Linked DNA regions of Homo sapiens: region 2 is linked to region 1. The links come from fine-mapping of genetic effects on gene expression. A gene starts in region 1. The other region holds a variant in brackets. All regions are shown on one strand. Distances are from middle to middle.

Evidence for each region. PIP is the estimated chance that this variant, and not a neighbour inherited with it, causes the effect.
Region 2: its variant is fine-mapped to the expression of MMUT in whole blood (INTERVAL, PIP above 0.99).

Annotation. Positions count from the first base shown.
Region 1 is chr6:49,458,392-49,468,498 of GRCh38, forward strand. MMUT (methylmalonyl-CoA mutase) reads right to left here and starts at 4,862. Exons shown (of 13, transcript NM_000255.4): 1 at 4,712-4,862; 2 at 691-1,114. The coding sequence starts at 1,075. CENPQ (centromere protein Q) reads left to right here and starts at 4,979. Exons shown (of 9, transcript NM_018132.4): 1 at 4,979-5,062. RefSeq lists enhancers at 4,045-4,945, 4,532-4,601, 4,946-5,845.
Region 2 is chr6:49,369,231-49,379,588 of GRCh38, forward strand. No RefSeq gene overlaps it. Among named protein-coding and RNA genes, the nearest start is that of MMUT, 89 kb to the right of the region's middle. The variant A/G (reference allele first, on the strand shown) is at 5,287.

The DNA of each region.
Region 1 (10,107 bases):
CTGTTCATATATGGCAAAAATAACTTAGCATTTGTATGCTTGCTTACTATTTTGTTCTTTTATCTAATATGGTCACAAAGGATTCCTGGCTATTCAAATATTCTGGAAAACAGAATTATGACCATCGTACAAAATTTTTAAATAACTAAAATAGTCTATACTAAATGTAAGTTCAACCTTCCATGGGCAATACAAACTTATAAATCTACAAGTTTAGTATTCAAACAGTACAATTTTATTACAGCTCAGAAAGAAGAAATAATAGTTAAGATAATTTTCAGTGAATGAATGCCAGGTTGCACTGAATATGTTTGTACCACGTTATCACATTTACACTTTCTTTGGGCATCATCTAAACTATCTTCCTCTCCAATCGCTATCCCAACAATGTTAATTGAACATTTTTCGAAGGCAAAGCTAATGTCTTCTTTTCTTCATGCAACTTTACCTCACCTAATTCCTTTTAAACAACGTGCATGTGTTGTTTTCTTTCAAAAATTTAGCACCTTATTCTAATTCACTTATCTTTTTGACCACAGAAGTTAAAAAAATCCACTTTTTTCAGAGTATAGTCTTTAACTACAAAATTATAGAGTGAATATCATCTTTACAGAGATTAACCCCCAAAAAATAAAAAACTAGGAGGCATATGACTTATCATAAATATTATGTCTTACATTAAAATCTCACCCTTAATGTTGTCCTTATAGAACTTATTGCTTTCTTCCACAGTACTAAAACCAGCATACTGGCGGATGGTCCAGGGCCTAAAGGTATACATGGTAGGATATGGTCCACGTGTGAATGGCTTCACTCCTGGAAGTTCTTCAGGTAAGTCCATAGTATCTCTCTTGGAATACAAGGGTTTTATAGAGATCCCTTCCGGGGTGTGCCATATTAGGTCTTCTGGGTTTTTGCCTTTCAGCTGCTTTTTAGCCAGGGCAGCCCATTCTGGGTGAAGGGGCTGTTGCTGGTGTAGAAGTCGTTGCTGTATGAGCCTGGAGCCTGATGATTCTTTTACCTGCCTCAGGTAATGAGGTGAAAGTAAAAAAAGCTGATTCTTAGCTCTTAACATGGTGGAGCATGGAAACACCCAATAGAAATAAGAACTGACCTAGAAAAAGAAACATAGAGTAAAAACATTTAGAAGAGGGGGTGGGAAATAGGAGCTACTCATAAGAAAGGAACAGAAAAGAAAGAGGATGTATTAGTCTGATTTCATTTCTTCCCCTTTTCTGCTTCCTGCACCTGATATTTTATAACTTTGGCCCCTCTTCTTCACAATTACTATCAGTCCTGTAGTTTCAGTCTTTTTCCTCAGTAGCCTCTTAGCTGGTCTTACTGACCAGTCTTACTCCTTTTCTACTCCATTCTATACGAATCCCTTCCATACAATGACATCAATGTAAATATGACTATGTCACACTCCTCATGGAATTTTTCAAAGACTCTGTATCATGTGGAAGATATACTACAGCCTCCTAATTAATTTTTTCATTCAAAGTGCTTTTATTAAATATCAGTTTATGACCGACATTATGTTGGGTAATAGAGAAAAAAGTGATGAATAAGACAAACAGGCATTCAAGGCCTTCATGAACTGGTCTCTGTTTCCCCCTCAGACCCATCTCTGTCTTTGTCCTCTTTATGCATTTTGTGCACTAGAAATACTGGATTACCTACAGTTGGCTGCACATATGTCAAAGTTTTCTGAATTTGCTCTTGCTCTTCCTTCTGCCTAAAATGTTCTTCTCTGGCTAATTCAGCTAAGGCATTATCTCCAATTTGCAGCGTTTCTATGTGCCAGTAACATAGAAGGCTATAAAGACATCACAGAGAGTAGCAATTTTAATCTTTACAATACCCCTAAGAGGTAGGTACTATTATTATCCTTATTTTACAGATTAGGAAACTGAGGCACAGAAGAGCCAGCATTGATTGGAACCTATGCAGCCTGTTTCAAAGTCCTTGCATTTAACTAATATGCACACAATTCATCCCAGAACCCATAAGGTGAGCTAAATGGCCTCTTCAATAATCTACTTCTGTGCTAGTTTATAAACTGCTCCAACATTAGAGCTGCATATTCCGGATAACTAGCATAGACTTTTATACTAGGTTGCTGGGTTCAGCGTCATCATTTTCCAGATGTAGAAACTGAGGCTCAGAGAAATAAAGTCGCTTGATCAAAATCCCACCTCACAAAGCCGTAAACTGTTTACCTGAATTACTAAAACTTGTCAGAGTCATACAGCGTAAACATATAGAGCCCATTGTTTAAAAAGATATTGAGATGCAAACATTAATATATTCACTATACTATGTGTTTTATACTGGATAAGGCAACAAGTAAAGGGAGTTTCAAATTTTATTTTCCATACCACTTCTTACCTATCAGTTTAGTAAAGCTTAAATGAAATCAATACTCAACACTTATTATGGGGTCGTTAAACAAGAGACATAAACCACTGGTGACAGTATTAACTATTTTAACTACTTTGGAAAGTAAATTGTCAATATACATGAAATGCTTCAGAAATGTTTATGCCATTCCACTGAGGAACATTACTCCTGGGAAAGCTTCTGTAGTAATATATAAAATAGATGTTTCCTATAGTTTTATTTGTAATAGAGAAAACTTAGGAAAATCGTAAGTATCTCATAACATATGAATAAGTGAATTACAGCATATACAAATGATAGAATTTCATGTAGTTATCAAAATATGTTTAGAAAGCTGGCAAAACTAATCTTTGATGTCAGAAGTCAGAAGAATGGTTACTTAATGGTTGCTAGAATACAACAGGAGCAAGAGAGGGGCTTTTGGGGGTAATGGTCTTGATCTGATTGCCACTTACATAGATATATTCTGTTTGTGGAAATTCATCAAATTATACAGTTATGTTTTATGCAGTTTCTGTAAATATATGTATAAGTAAAAAGTTAAAAATGTGTTATGCATAGTTTCCCAAAAAAAGAGAAACAAACTCAAAAAGTAGTAAGTAAAAGACTCAAGACACGTAATTGTAAGTGCAACAGGTTCAACTATGTAAAAAGTACATAGAACAAAGTCTAAATGGAAACATAACAAAAAAGGCTGGGCATGGTGGTTCACGCCTGGAATCCCAGCACTTCAGGAGGCCGAGGCAGGTGGATCACCTGAGGTCAGGGGTTCAAGACCAGCCTGGCCAACACGGTGAAACCCAGTCTCTACTAAAAATACAAAAATTAGCTGGGCATGGTGGCGCACACCAGTAATCCCAGGTACTCAGGAGGCTGAGGCATGAGAATCACTTCAACCCGGGAAGCAGAGGTTGCAGTGAGCAGAGATCGTGCCACTGCACTCCAACCTGGGCAACAGAGAGAGACCCCGTCTCAAAACAAAACAAAAAAACCTTCCATTTTTTTAATACTAGCACGATTTTTATTCTTTAAATCCATGGGGTCCTTGTCATCCATCTTTTTGCAAGCCATCCACTACATTTACTAGCTTAAAAGGTGGATGAAAAAAATAATGAAGCAACAACTAAACTGTTTCAATAGTAATCCTGTAAAAGGTAATTTGAAAACCACCTGAGACTAAACTGTTGGCAGGAAATATCACACTCATTTCACGTGGGCTTTCCTAAATCTGAACAACTAATAGGAAAGAGCCCCGTTTAAGTGACTTCCTGAAAATCACATGTGAATTGGTGGAGGCTGGAAACAGACACCATTTTTAGATAAAAACACAACTACTGCGGATGGCAATACGACCTCTGAATTTTCTCAGAAGACCATCAAGAGAGGCCTCAAGCATTCAAAGAAGCAACATGCAAAGCAAATATGTTACTGACAACTAAAATGAGTTAAAGAGCAATGATTAATCCCACCCCCACACCTCAAAAACAAATCAGTGAGAAAAAGATTTCTTGAACCAATAAGTTTCAAGCTTTGGCTGCTGACGTATGATTGCACATTAATACTTCAAGAAGGTACTTTGATGTTCAACTAGTTGGGTTTGGAGATGGAAACATAGGGCATGAAAATTATATTTGATATTAGCATAAGTACATCATTAAACACAAAATTATATTGGCAGAAAATCATCAAGTGGTTTAAAACTTTACACACATACGTTATCCAGGGCTTCGAGCTTCCCTAAGACCACCTTCTTTCTAGATAAAACTGAGAACGAGTTAGTAATGTAAGCTTTTATGTCAATTTAGACCTGTCTTTTCTATTCTACCTCTCACTCTTAACACTGTTTACACTCTTAATCCTGTTTACACACAGAAAATCACTTTTATTCCCGAAAACTCTTAGAAAAACCCTGACAATAACATAACCCACAACCTAGAAGGGAGGCAGCCATGAAGCAGGCGCATCCCTTTGGAACCATACAAAAAGTGACCTCTGCCAACGGGAACAGTTCAGGGTGCTTAAGTGGCCAAAGAAGATACCGACATGGCCCCTAAAGTATTAAAAGCACCTTCTTTCCAGAAGTACCTCCGAATTGCCAGGGACTTCGCCCAAAACTAGAGGTTGGTCGAAGTGAAAATCTAAACCTAAGGAGAAGGCAGAGAGTGGGATCCCGTCACAGTAGGAAGGTAAAGAAGACAGAAGTAAAGGACAGAGCGGGAGAGAAAGGACAAAAGTTCAAAATACAGGGGTAGAGGAGGGACAGGAGCCAGAAGAATGGAGCGATCTGAAAGGTGTACGTCCTACTCACTGGTAGGCCTGTTTTGGACTCCGCTGTGGGAGAGGGCGGCTGCACTTCTGCGTCCCCCGCCTCACCTGTCAGACATCCACACAGCCAGGCCTCCCCGCCCTCACCAAGCCCACACAAACCGCGCCACCGCCAGCGTCAGCCGGACGACTCTGGGGGCGTAGGCCGACACCGCCCTCCCTCCAGCCAATCTAATAGCGCTCTCATGGGCGCATTCCTGATGACGTTTAGGGGTAGGGTTAGATGCCCGTTTCCGCTTTCTTCCCACCCACTTCCGGGTCTCCTCTGTTTACGAATGTTTGGGCGCGAATTACTCTAAGCGCGGCTCTCAGAAGGGTGCAAGAAGAATCAGTGGTGAGTCGTGATATCCTTAACCGGCTGGGTGGATCTAAAGTTCAGGGATGAGTTTTAAAGCCAACGCGTTTGTGGCAGACTCCGCAGTTTGCATTTGAGGATAGCGAGGGGGGATTGCTTACGGGGAAATGCCCGATGTCCTAAAAGATCTGCCCTTAGGATCCTGAGATTGAGATGTTTGATTAGGGGGGAGGGAGCAAAGCCATGAATACTTCCTATTTCTCCCGAATCATCCTCATGGCTCATCCTCATTGCTAAATTTCTCCCGCGGGCACTAGTGAAGTCAAGTGCAGCCTTGGACATTAGTGTCTGTGTTTCTCCAGGAGTCCTACTCACTCTTGTGCCCACATAGAGGTCTAAATTGAGGTAATTGAGTCCCATGAGTATCAACAAGCTGGTAAGAAAAACAAGACAACCTAGAATGCCTCCCTCTCTCCTAAAGCATATAGTCTGGCGGCAAACTACTGTACCAGCCTTATTTCTTTTCACTTCTCCTATACACATTAAAAGCCTCGCTGGATTATCCTGTCCCTGAACACGCCAGGTTTTTTGTGTTTTTTCCGAGCTTTCCTGCCGTCCGAGTTTTACTGTTTTCCCTTGGATGCTTCATTTTTCTACTTTTTGGCTAAATATTTCAAAATGTTATTAGAATAATACTTTTTCTATGAATAATGTACAAACATACTTCCGAGATATTGCGGGGTCGGTTCCAGACCAATAAAGCCTGTCACACGATTTTTTTGGTTTCCCAGTGCATATAACAGTTGTATTTACACTGTATTGTAACCTATTAAGTGTGCAATAGCATTATGTGTAAAAAAAAATTACATGCTGTAATTTTAAAATATTTTATTGCTAAAAAATGCTACTAATCATCTCAGCCTTCAGCAAGTCCTAATCTTTTTGCTGGTGGAGGGTCTTGCTTGATGTTGATGGCTGTTGACCAATCAGGGTGATGGTTGCTGAAGATTGGAGTTGCTGTGGCAGTTTCTTAAAATAACAAAATAATGAATTTTGTACAGCAGTTGACTCTTCCATTCACTAAAGATTTCTCTGTAGCATGTGATGCTGTTTGAAAGCATTTTACCCACTGTAGAACTTCTTTCAAAATTAGAGTAAATCCTCTTAACCCCTACCATTGCTTTAGCAACTAAGGTTTTGTGATATTCTGAATTCTTTGTTGATATTTCAAGAATATTCACAGCATCTTCACCAGGGGTAGATTCCATCTCAAGAACTTCGCTCATTCATAAGAAGCAACTTCTTTTCCACTAGTTTTATCATGAGATTGCAGCAATTCAGGTACATCTTCAGGCTCCACTATTTCTCTTGCTATTGCCACCAGATCTTTCATCACTTCCTCCACTGAAGTCTTGAACAAAGTCATGACCTTTACAAAGTCATCCATGAGGGTTGGAATCAACTTTTTCCAGACTCCTGTTAATGTTGATATTTTGACCTCCTCCCGTGAATCATGAATGTTCTTACTAGCATTTGGGATGGTGAATCATTTCCAGAAGTTTTCAATTTATTTTGCCCAGATCCATCAGAGGAATCACTGTCTAGGGCAGCTATAGCTTTACAAAATGTATTTCTTAAATAATATAACTTGAAAGTCAAAATTATTCTTTGATTCATGGGCTGCAGAATGGATGTTGTGTTAGCAGACATGAAAACAGCATTAATCTCCTTGTACATCTCTATCAGAGCTCTTGGGTGACCAAGTACGTGGTCATTGAGCAGTATTATTTTGAAAGGAATCTTTTTGTGAGCTGTAGGTCTCAAAGATGGGCTTAAAATACTCAGTAAACCGTGCTGTAAACAGATGTGCTGTCACTCATGCTTTGTTCTTCCATTTCCAGAGCACAGACAGAGTAGATTTAAAAGAATAAGAGCCCTAGGATATTTCAGAATGGTCAATGAGCATTGGCTTCAAGTCACCACCCATATTAGCCCCTACAAGAGAGTCAGCCTGTCTTTTGAAGCTTTGAAGCCAGGCAATGACTTCTTTCTAGATATGAAAGTCCTAGATAGCATCTTCCAATAGAAGGCTGTTTTGTCTTCATTGAAAATCTGTTGTTTAGTGTAGCCCCTTCATCAATTATCTTACCTAGAACTGGATAACTTGCTGCAGCTTCTGCATCAGCACTTGCTGCTTCACTTTGTACTTTCATGTTATGCAGATAGCTTACTTCCTTAAACCTCAGGAACCAAGCTCTGCTAGCTTCAGGCTCTTTTGCTACAGCTTTCTCACCTCTCTCAGCTTTCATAGAATTGAAGTGAGTTAAGACCTTGCCATGAATTCGTCTTTGGTTTAAGGGCGTGTTGTGGCTAGTTTGATCTTCAATCCCGGACCACTCAAACTTTCTCCCTATCAGTAATAAGGCTGTTTTTGCTTTCTTATCATTCATGTCTTCACTGGAATAGCACTTTAAATTTCCTTCAAGAACTTTTCCTTTGCATTCACAGCTTGGCTAACTGGTGTAGTTTCCAGCCTATCTTGGCTTTTGACATGCCTACCTCACCTTGCTTAAACATTTCTAGCTTTTAATTTAAAGTGAGAGAGGTGTGATTTTTGCTTTCACTTGAACACTTAGAGGCCATTGTAGGGTTATTAAATGGCCTAATTTCAATATCATTGTGTCTCAGGGAATAGGGAGGCCTAAGGAGAGGGAGAGAGGCAGGGAACAGCCAGTTGGTGGAGCAGTCAAAACACAACGCAACATTTACCTATTAAGTTCTCTGTCTGATATTGGCATGGTTCATGGTGCCCTAAAACAATTACAGAGTAACATCAATCACCATAACAGATATAATAATGAAAAGGTTTGAAATATTGTGAGAGTTATCAAAATATGACACAGAAATGTGAAGAGTGAGCACAATCTGTTGGAAAAATGGCATCAATATAGTTGTTCAGTGCAGGCTTGCCACAAACCTTTAGTTTGTAAGACAACAACAACAAAATACAGTGTCTGCGAGGCTCAATAAAGTGAAACACAATAAAAAGAGTTATGCCTGTACATTCTTACCCATAGCACAAACCAGTTTAAGACAGTCATTCGCTCACTTGCCTCTTTATAACATTTATAAATACACATAGTAATTATTTTCATATCTGTCTCTACCTGTGCACTATCACTAAGCTGTGGTTTCCCTTGGATCTAAGAATGGGACAAAATACCTATTCATTTTTATATGCACTGTGAGTAGCCCAGAAGTGATAGAAACAATGTCTTTTGTTTATTGGATTCTTACTATGTCTCAAATACCGTTCTAGGTGGTTTATATATTCTTTGTTACATCATTTTTGCTTTACAAAAGCCTTTAATGTTAGTACTTTTATTAATCGTTTTACTAATGGGGAAAATGAGTTAATTTACTGGCCCAAAGATATACAGTTAATTAAGTGGCAGGGCTAGATTTGGAGCTTGAACAATTTACCCTCGTTGCAGGACTGCTCTTAACCATTATGGTAGTGTTCTCAACCTGGGTTGATTTTGACCCAGGAGACATTTGGCAATGTCTGGAAACAATTTTGATTGGCTCTACTCAGGGGTTGGAAGTATTCTAGCATCTGACGGTCTACGTAGACCCAAGCATGCTGCTAAACATCCTACAATACACACCACAGTCTCCACAACAAAGAATGATCCATCTAAAATGTTAATAGTGCTGAGGTTGAGAAACTTTGTGCTATAGTCTAGTGCCTCAAGTAGGTTTCATTGTTAACAGTACTTCTCAAACTCTGTTAGACCAGTTTTGCTTTTTATTTCTAATCAGTCATAACTGATACTTTTGTAAAATGCAATTAAAAATCAATTATTAGTCAAACTCCCTTGTGGTATAATACCAGGAGTGAACTCTGATGTAAACAATGGATTTTGGGTAATATGATGTGTCAACAATTACAGCAAATGTACCAGTTTGGTGTGTGATGTTAATACTAGAGGTTGCAGGGAATGGGGAAGGGCAGGGATTATATAAGAAGTTTCTGTATGTTTTGCTCAATTTTCTGTAAACCTAAAACTGTTCTGAAAAAAGTCTTTTTTAAAAAAATACTAATTACTAGAAAATGATATGGCAAAGACAAGGCTAATTATTTTATGATAAGGTTCAATGTGCATAAAATTACTCTATCAAATTGCTACAAAAGTTTCTAAATGATTACCTTCAATTTCCACACTTGATTATGGCAAACAGTTTGAATGAGATTTGGAGTAGCGCTAAATTACATGTTATTTTAATAAAGAATATCAAGAAGAAAATGATTAATGGACCCAAGCTATAAATAAGTACCAAATGAGACAGAGCAAAAGAGCCACAGACTTAGAGAGAAATGAAGTAGAATAGTTAGGAAGATTTTGAAAAGAAGGTGGCTCATGATCTGAGAGGGTGGGCAGAGACAGAAGAGAGCTGCTCAGGTAGAAGGTACAGTGTATGTTTGGGAGGCAGAATTACTCAAAGTGTGTTCAGGAAATCATCAAATCTAGCTAGAGAGGGAGATTTGATTAAGGAGTAGTAGGAGAGAAGTATGAAAAGGTAGGCAGAGTTAGGTTGGTAAGGACTAAAAATGGCATGGTAAAGAGTTTGAATGTTACACAGAACGTATTGGGGTAAATTTTTTACTCAATTAATTTGTTCCAAAATTTGGGATTGGGAGGGACTAGGCAGGGCTTGCTCATGTCTTGTCCACACAGTGTGGGCTGCAGCATATTGACTTAGGTACATGTACCAGACTGGCCAGTTGGTGCTGGCTCTTGGCTGGGAGCTCAGCTAAGACTTTCCTGGGGTTTCAGTTCCTCTCGGTGTTGGCCTTCCTCCTATGGTGGTGGCTGGGTTATAAGAGCAAGTGTTGGCCGGGCTCAGTGGCTCACGCCTGTAATCTCAGCGCTTTGGGAGACCGAGGCAGGAGGATCACTTGAGGTCAGGAGTTCGAGACCGGCCTGAACAACATGGTGAAACCCCGTCTCTACTAAAAATACAGAAAATTAGCTGGGCGTGGTGGGGGGTGCCTGTAGTCCCAGCTACTTGGAAGGCTGAGG
Region 2 (10,358 bases), 89 kb before region 1:
AAATGCTTGTCTGAAGTCCTGGGAATGTTCATCACGGATGATGACAGCTAAAAGGTAAATAGCTCAACTTTCCGAGTAGCCAGATGGATATTTATGATCTCTAATTCTCAGTCAGATTGGAATCAACATTTCTTACTGCATTGGCGACAACCTCCCTTAAGTCATGTTTAAAACTTCTCTTGTTTTTTTTGCCAACTCTGGAAAACAAGTCCTTACAAATTATGTTACAATTCATAAATAAAAGGCTATTCATTTATAGGTAGCCACATGTCTTTTGAGCCATTAGATCAGCCTTACTCAAATTTGAGACACATCTGTCCATAATCAATCAAATTATCAAATATACTTGTTATTTGTTAACTTGAAATGGAATAATACAAACAAAGAAATGAAACTCTTAGGGAATATTTAAGAGTTATTCTTATCTGTGGGAGTTTTGTTTTGATAATTTTTTTTGAGATAGGGTCTGGCTCTGTTGCCCAGGCTGGAGTGCAGTGGCACAATCTCAGCTCACTGCAACTTCCACCTCCTGGGCTCAAGCGATCCTACCTCAGCCTCCCAAGTAGCTGGGATTACAGGTGCGTGCCACCACAGCTGGCTAATTTTTGTATTTTAGTAGAGATGGGGCTTCACCATGTTGGCCAGGCTGGTCTTGAACTCCTGGCCTTAAGTGATCTGCCTGCATTGACCTCCAAAGGTGATGGGATTACAGGCATGAGCCACCATACCCAGCCTGCTTTGGTAACTCTAAAAGGAAAAAACAGTACAATTTAAGCAGAAGCCTCAGTTGATTCCACAGGGAGCTCTTTATTTGGGGGCTTTCAAAGTGAAATTACATTAAGGTGAGGGGTGGGGCTTTACCTCTACATTTACTAGTAATTGAATGTGGTCTGCCCCTGGACAGGGAAGCCATCCTTGAGTGAGTCAGTTCTTATCATTCAGGGTAATTCTAAGAGAAGGAAACAGCCATGATTTATCAGTGGTGGCCAACATGACCAGTAGTTGGGGGAATGAGGCCCCAAACCTGAAGGAAAATCTGGAAAGAGTGCCTTGGAGACCCCTCTAGTCAGTTGTAGACCTCTGATAAACATTTGTATGGGATATAGATCTCATCACACTCTCTATACCCTTACTATATACCCCTCATCCCTTGTAAAGTTTACAATATTTGTTCTTTCCATATTCTTGACCATTTGAGCAATATATTAGCCTCTGTTCTTAAATCTGTAGATTTGTATCTCAGGCCTTCTGCCCACTTGAAGTAAATGACCAAAGGCACAATCTAAAGCGCTATTTAAAGGATTTCCTCACTACTTCCTGGATCAACTCTGCTAATATACAATACAGTTACAGATAAAAACTAGTCCTACTTCAAAGATACGAGTGGAGGGAGAAGCAATGAAGCAGTAGAAAGTAATACCATGACAGTTTGAGTCATCTGCTTTTATTTTTCTACCTTCTGGATTTGCTCAGATCTAATCACATATGCACCATTTCCACTTTACACTGGAATACTGCTGTGCATGTTGAGCTCCATAGGTCTGTCAAACAGATAACCACCATTTTAATATGGACATGATCACCTGACTTTTTAGCCTGCCAGAAGCTGCTTTTTAGTTGGTTGGAGGGGATAGGAGAGAGGTTAGGAGATTCTCCAAACTTGCAGAAGATGATGATAATGATGATCCATATCAAACAATATGAGTGGTAAAAGGAGAGATTTGTCAAGTGAAACAATGTGTCAGATTGAAAGCATGGGTATAAAGTTGTTTTGAATGCAGTCCTCATGAATCTTTCACAGAAGACCAGTTCCCACTGAGAAGTCCATTCTTTCAAAAGGCTGCATAGAAAGTGGAGAGGGAAAATGGAGCAGTTGCATAGGGAGTCAGAACCACTGTGGTTATCCACAGGGAAGAGAAAGAAAGAAACAAAAAAAATTGTTTTAATCTTTTCCTATCCAGTAACATTTATTAATAGCTATGTGCTGGCCCAGTGCTGGGTGCCGTACACATTCTATCTCATCTAATGCACACAACAAACCAGTTTTTATTAGTTGACCAGAAGTCATCCACAAATGGCTGAGATGAATTGGCAACACAGACCCACCCACTGACTTTGAAGTTAACACTGCCCCTACAGGTGACTCTCCCATCCAATTTTACCAATTTTATGATTTTATCCACAGGTAAAATTTTTTTAATCTTGTTATTATCCAGTTATCTAGGCAAATCTAGAAAGAAGCCTGGGGAGCTCATTAAAGTAGATATGCTGAGATGGAGAAAATTAAATTTTATCTCTTACTTCCTCTGGCTAAGAAAATTTTTAAGGCTCCTCAACAGGGAAAGAATTGGGGTGCAAAGCAGGAAAATGTATTCATTGAGATCAGTAACTTGTCCAGCTGTTCCTCATACTTATGGCTTTCAAATATGTCAATGATGTAGTTTGGACTAGGTTTGGGAACAATAGAGAGGGAATGTTCTAGGCTGGGAAAACATTCATGCATTGAAAGTAATTTTTTTCAAATAATCTACAAAACAGTCCTACTTTTCAATGTTTTGAATGAATTGAATTCAATCAATTCATAAGACAGAACACCGTCATTTGAAACATTATATTATGTTTCTACAAAACAAAAAGGAATAGAATTTTTAAAAACTCATCAGTTTCATGGAATTTTACTGGAAAGGTAATTAATCCATTTTCTTAGTTAATATGCTGGATCTGTACAAAGCATTATACAGAGTAAGTATTATTAAAGTGTTTGTTTCTTTTATTTCATTTTATTTTTGAGACCGAGTCTTGCTCTGTCGCCCAGGCCAGAGTGCAGTGGTGCAATCTCTGCTCACTGCAACCTCGGCCTCCTGGGTTCAAGCAATTCTCCTGCCTCAGGCTCCCAAGTAGCTAGGATTACAGGGGCACACCACCCTGCCCAGCTAATTTTTGTATTCTTTTAGTAGAGACAGGGTTTCACCATGTTGGCCAGGCTGGTCTCTAACTCCTGACCTAGTGATCCGCCCTCCTTGGCCTCCCAAAGTGCTGGGATTACAGGTGTGAGCTACCGCACCTGGCCATTTGTTTCATTATTGAACATGCAATTTAATTGAAGCATAATAGATCCCTTTAAATATGTATTATTTTTCCTCTATTATGTTGATTGACTGCTCTAGGAGTAAGAAAAAATTTACCACATTCTAAGATGTCAGCAAGTGAAATTCCAACCTCGCAATTCTTAACAAGGAATTTTCATATTTGTGGGTGTAGCAGCCTGATTCAGAGACAAAGCCCACCTTCTGTATATGAGATGTTGGATGGACAGCCAATTGTAATGATTTAAGGACAATGAACAATTGGGACCAGTTATCTTCTTCTTGAGACTCTTTACTTCTGTGAGTTCCAGCTGATGGACTCCAGCCCAGGTCTATATTGCATTTGGCTGTGGTGGTATTTGGATTCGAATTTGAATGTCTCCATACTAGGCAAGCCCTCTCTACTTTGGCACAATACCTACCACTTTTTATTTTTTGTATATCCTGATCCAAACAATGATACTACCTACTGAATTATAAAAGCAGTCAATTTTGTACAGAAGATGCTTCCGATTTCAGAGCCCTCTGTTAAAAGTTTAAAGATAATTATATTTAGTTTGTCAAGTGTGCAGAAAATGTACAAGCTATCCTTGTACATTTTAGCTAATAAAAAGTCTTCTTGTAAAGGAATAGAATTTGGTTATAATAGCTGTCAAATTTTTAAAATTTGTACTTTGAAGCTGTAATTCTAATTCCAGAAACTTTTTTCTAAAAAATTACTCATACAGATCCAAAAACTTTTGTGTGCAAGAATATGTTTGGCTGCATCACCCAAAATAAAAAAACCTTGTAAACAATCTAGATGTGCATTTATACAACAGTGGTTATAGAAATCATGATATAGTCAGTATATATGTAACAATATCTCACACATCACATATATACTATATATGAATTCATGTATCATACGTATTAACATTTATGAATTTATATATTCACATATCATATGTATATGAATGACATGTGTACATAAAATAGATGAATAATGACTATACATACTGGCAGGGAAAGTGTTCAAGTCATACTGTTAAGTAAAAAAGCAAGTTGCAAATTGCTGCATATAGTATGAAACCATTTTAGAGAAAATAAAGTGTGTGTGCACATGTATGAAATTTATGTCTTAATGCATAACAATGCAATAATAAGTATTTTTAGGAAATTGAGATAACGATTTTCCACTCACAATTATAAAATAATGTATATAATTATGCATTTTATTATATATTTTTAACATGTATAATTCTAAGCTGCTTGAATTATAATGAGAAAAATTTGTTAGATCACTTATAATACAGTCAAAGAAGGGGAAAAGTTCTCCATTAAAATAAAAACAATCCTTGAGAAAATACAATATAATTCATTAATAAGCAAGTATTTTAACATGCTTCTTAGGCCCTACTCTTTGTGCCCTTGGCCTAAAACACTCTCCATAAATTATTATGAATGCCTGTTTCCCCAAATAGTTATTATCTGCTAATTCTTCAGCTCTCTCTCAGATACTATATTCTTATGAAAGTCTTCCCTAACCAACCCAGTCATATGTTCTCACAGAAATCATATTGTTCCATAGCACATGTGATGGTTAATACTGAGTGTCAAATTGATGAGACTGAAGGATGCAAACTATTAATCCTGGGTGTGTCTGTGAGGGTGCTGCCAAAGGAGATTAACATTTGAGTCAGTGGGCTGGGGAAGGCAGACCTACACTTAATCTGGATGGGCACCATCTAATCAACTGCCAGCGATTATAAAGCAGGCAGAAAATGTGAAAGCCTCCCAGCCTACATCTTTTTCCCATGCTGGATGCTTCCTACCCTTGAACATCAGACTCCAAGTTCTTCAGTTTTGGAACTTGGACTGGCTCTCCTTGCTCCTCAGCCTGCAGCAGGCCTATTGTGGGAACTTGTGATCGTGTGAGTTAATACTTAATAAACTCATTAAATACCTAAGAAACTCTTTTATTCCATTAATTCTGTCCTTCTGGAGAACTCTGACTAATACAGTACACATGATGGTTTATAATTATATACTTATATATTCATTTAGGAAATTATTTATTTTATATACAATTCCTAGACTAAGCTATGAGCTCCATGAGGTCAGATATCCTATCTGTTTTTCTCACTGTTAAATTACAGACACCTGAAACAGTGTCAGGTCATGATAGATACTCAAAATATATTTATTGAATGAAGAAATC[A/G]TGAGTGAGTTTATTATTTAGTTGCATTTTTGAAAGTTCAGGATAAGTCTGTTTTTTTTTAAAAGTCACATACAATGGATAAGGGAAAAATAGGCCTTGAAAAAAAGGATGGAGAGGAAGCCTAACAATTTCAACTAGTTTACAATCTCACAGGCCTTGACAAGTTAACTCTTACAGCTAATTAAAATTACACCTGTGTATAGAGAGTAGGCATTCATTCATTTATTCATTCATTCAGTTTGTTCATTAATATTAATCTGCTAAGCTTTCATTCCCTTTATAAAGAGAAAGTCTTAGATTCAATGTGATGTTTCCTCTTTAATTCATAATCAGCTACCTAAGAATATTTTAAAAGGCCTCTTTTTTCAACTTTTAAAACCAAGCATTTCAGTTCTTATGAGCTTCATTCAAATTCTTGCCTTATTTTTTTCCCGCTAATAGCTCTACTCAATCCAAAGGTATTTTACTCAGTATATCTCAGATTTTATTTTCCCAGTTTCCTTCTTTTCATGCTGTTTATTTGAAGATTTTTTTAAAATTTTCAAACTGACTTTTTATTGCTATTTTTCTGGCCTCAGTTCTCTATTTGATGTTTTTAAAGAGTTGTGTCACTAGATAGTAGTTAAATACTTACCAATTTTTCTACTTAATCTCAGAAAACCTGCTGCCATTTTATAATAAATACAATACCATGCCACTCATGGAAGGTCAATGCATGAGTGTCGGGTAATGTCACTTGACTTCTTTGAGACAGGATCCCCCACTTACTCACACCACCCTCCCATTAAAAACTAACCGTACATCTGGAATGTTGGCCAGCTTTCCTTAATAGAGAGGATGTGGCCTAAGGGCCTTTATTCACAAAATTAGTTTGTGCCTGATGCTCTGAATTATGCTGTTTTAATAATTTGCTAGAAACATGATCAATAAGAAGTATTCATTTTCTGTTACCCTGTAGGTAAATTCTTTGCCAGTATTAATATTTTCTTTGACAGATTGCTGAACTCATAATGATGGTATTGCATACTTGCAAAGCTGTTTATGATCTGCAAAATAATTTCACATTTCACTGTGTCATAGCTTTTCACCTCTGATTCTAGTTAGATAATTCAATTATGTAAAATAGTCACTTGATGAGGGACTCCTGTTAAGCATTATACCAACACTTCAGACACTGTCAAAAGAAATATATGTAGTCTCTTCATTTGCAAATCATTGAAAGCTTGAAAGTGGTGTATTAGAAACAAAGACTGTTATAAAATTGTAGGATACCACAACTTCATGCAATTTAAAAAAACAGTGAGTTCCAACCATGATCAAAAAGGATGGATTTATATTTGTCTGGAAATTAAGAAAAATGGCTAAAGAAATGTCAATCTGACTGCCTTGCTTGTTGGCTGTAGCCCTTGCTATCTTGAATTATATTTGCGATTACTAAATATAATTCTTGCCTAATATCCTACTTCCACTTGAATATACTCTCTTGCTTGGACAATGATGTCAATTCTTAATATCTCTTTAATATTTCAATCCCAGCTTTCTCATTTGTCTCTTAATGCCCAGTGATGCATGATATGGCACAAGGTTGCAATACTGGTAATATTTTTTTCAGAAAATCATCCTTCCTTTATCATCTGTTGACACTTTTGTTGAGCCATTTAAATGTGCCCAGCATTCTGCTTGACTGCTAAGGTTATACAGTTGACACCCTTAAGGAGTTTACAGTAATTCAGTTTGCAATCTATACATAATTAATTAGACATTTTTCATCAATTAAAAACATACAAGAATTTTAAAAATATATAATATTCTTGCAGTCTTCATTGCATGAAAGAAACAAGTACTATCCCTTAAATTAGATATGCGTAACCTATGAAGATACCAGATTAGCCAGTTTACTAGGTGTGCAATAAATAAAATCCCAAAGTATCTATTCTTGATTGTGGAAAAAAGATCTGAAGATATAGAAAAGTAAAGTTTCTATGACAGAACACATCATAGACCAGCATTGGAAACACACTAAAAATAATATTAATCAATTGTCAGTCATAAGCTTGTCAGAAGCCTGACATAATTGTTCTTCCTCAGAGAGAAAAATGTGCAGAGACTTAGAGAAAAAAAATTCATTAGAATAATCTGTTCACCTTGATTGAAAGTTGATAAATGTATTTGGTAATTTCAAACAGATTGTGAATTTTAAAAATCTATGCTAGAACTCATTTTTATAAATTTGTAAAATTAGGAAGGAATTGAGGAGAAAACTCTTATCAAAAAATTGCAAATTGTGGCTTTATCCAGCCTGTCAATGTTAGACTGGATAAATTAAATGTAGTACATATACACTATGGAATACTATGCAGCCATAAAAAGGAACAAGATCATGCCCTTTGCAGGGACATGGATGGAGCTGGAACCCATTTTCCTCAGCAAACTAACTCAGGAACAGAAAACCAAATACCACATCTTCTCACTTATAAGTGGGAGATGAATAATGAGAACACATGGATACATTGAGGGGAGCAACACGCACTGGGGCCTGTGGAAGGGTGGAGCATTAAGAAGAATAGCTAATGGATGCTGGGCTTTATACCTAGGTGATGAGATGATCTGTGCAGCTAATCACAATGGCACATGTTTACCTATGTAACAAACCTGCACATCCTGCACATGTGCCCCTGAAATTAAAAGTTGGAAATCAAAAAAGGCCAATTTTTAAGATTCTAGGACAAAAAGAGGTTACTTATGTATTTAGATATTACAGATGCAATATTCTTCCTTGGGTTTTGTATATAGAAGCAATTTTTCTCCAGCAAAATTATACAAATGACCATTCTTCATAACTGAAAACAGTGAAAGTATCTTGTGGGCATCAGACCTTCCAGTGCAGAGGATGATTAAAGTTGAGATAATCAGTTAAGAAACATGCCATTTCCAGCTCCTTCTTCTTTCATTGAGGAGAGAAGGAGTGGGAGGAAGACTCCGGATTGATGAACAATTAATTTTAGTCTGTTAATTTTCTACAAGGAAAATGACTAAGATTCACTTTATGGAAATTTAAAATGCATGCAATTTGGACATCATACTGTAAAACATCACCAAGGAATATAGCTAAAGATTAGAAATGTTGCTGAAATGGAGCAGCCCTGAAATGATTTGGGAGAAGCTATTTTATTAAACTCTTTTCTAGCTTAATGAATTTCAGTCTCAGTACTTTCTAGTCCATGCTTTTTCAAACTGCTGTACATGGAGCATTCGTTTCTGAGTGATTTTAAAATGTATTGTGCAAGTAAAAAGAATTCTAGGAGAAATATATTGGAAACCTTTGGGTTATACAAAGTTAAATTCATTTCTTCAGGACCTTGTGACGTCTCTAATGTACTACATGTGTTCTGCCTTCTGAGAAAGAGATATAATGAACAATGTCTTTCAGACACATTTGACTGTAGTAAACTTTTCTTAAGATGACTGCTCCCAAATGCATGCATGAGAACAATTACTTTTAGTGAATGATATGAAACAACTGACTATATTTTTGCACTTTCACTCTTACTGTCACATTATTCCTAAAGGACAGATAGTTGTGCAAGAAGAATATTGAATCCAAACAGGTTGTTAGAAATCACGTAGTAGTGGCCAGTAGCAGTGGCTCACACCTGTAATCCCACCACTTTGGGAGGCCAAGGTGGGTGGATCACCTGAGGTCAGGAGTTTGAGACCAGCCTGGCCAACATAGTGAAACCCCATCTCTACTAAAAATACAAAAATTAGCCGGGCATGGTGGCGTGTGCCTGTAATCCCAGCTACTTGGGAGGCTGAGGCAGGAGAATCACTTGAACCTAGGAGGCGTAGGTTGCAGTGGGCCAAGATCACGCCACTGCACTCCAGCCTGGGTGACAGAGTAAGATGGCATCTCAAAAGAAAAAAAGGAGAAGAAGAAAAAAGAAATCATGTAGAAGTGAAAGTCAACACAGCTGCAAAGTTTAGAAAGATGTCTTCCAATATGAAAGAAAATATCTTCTTTAAGAAAAAATAATTTCAATACTAAACAAGTACTTACAAAAAATAGAGGAGAATAAAATACTTCCAAACTAATTTTTTAAGCCAGAATATTCCTTATACCAAACACTGGAAAGAGCATTACAAGAAGAGAAAATGAATACTAATGTCTCATAATAAATATTAGCAGTAAACTCGAACAATGTTCAATCATGACCAGATAGGGTTACTTATAAGAAAGTAGAGTTGGTTTAGTATTTAAAAATCAACCACGCAAATTCCCATATTAACAGAATAAAGATTAAAATAGTATATATAAATAGATGTGAAAAATTTTTTATTAAATTTAAAATCCATTCATAATTTTTACAGAGAACTTTCAAACTAGGAACACAATAAGACTTCCTTAATCTGATTTTTTCTTTTAATTTTTTTCTTTTAATTGAGACAGTCTTGCTCTGTTGCCCAGGCTAGAGTGCAGTGGCGCAAGTTCAGCTCACCACAACCTCTGTCTTCTGGGTGCAAGCGATTCTCATGTCTCAGCCTCCCAAGTATGCTGGGATTGGAGGTGTGCTCCACCTCACCTGGCTAATTTTTGTATTTTTAGCACAGATGGGTTTTCACCATGTTGACCTGATTGGTCTCAAACTCTTGGCCTCAAGCCGTCCACTTGCCTTGGCCTCCCATCGTGCCAGGATTACAGGTGTGAGCCTCCATGCCTGGCCCTTAATCTGATTTTTTAGAAAAGTTTAGGTCAGGTGTGATACCAGGCACCTGTAGTCCTAGCTACTTGAGAAGCTGAGGCAGGAGAATCCCTTGAGAGGCTGAGACAATATAATCACTTGAGGCAAGGAGGTCAAGCATTGATCACACCACTGCACTCCAACCTGGGTGAAAAAGGGTGAACCTGTCTCTATTTTTTTAAAGAAAAAGTCTACAAATAACGTACAGCTAACATTAGACTCTCTGCAAAAATTTTGAAATACCTCTAGGATCAAAAATAAGACAAGGATGTCCACTTTCAACACTTTTCATTCAATGAATTGCTGGAGGTCTTAGCCAATTCAATAAAGCAA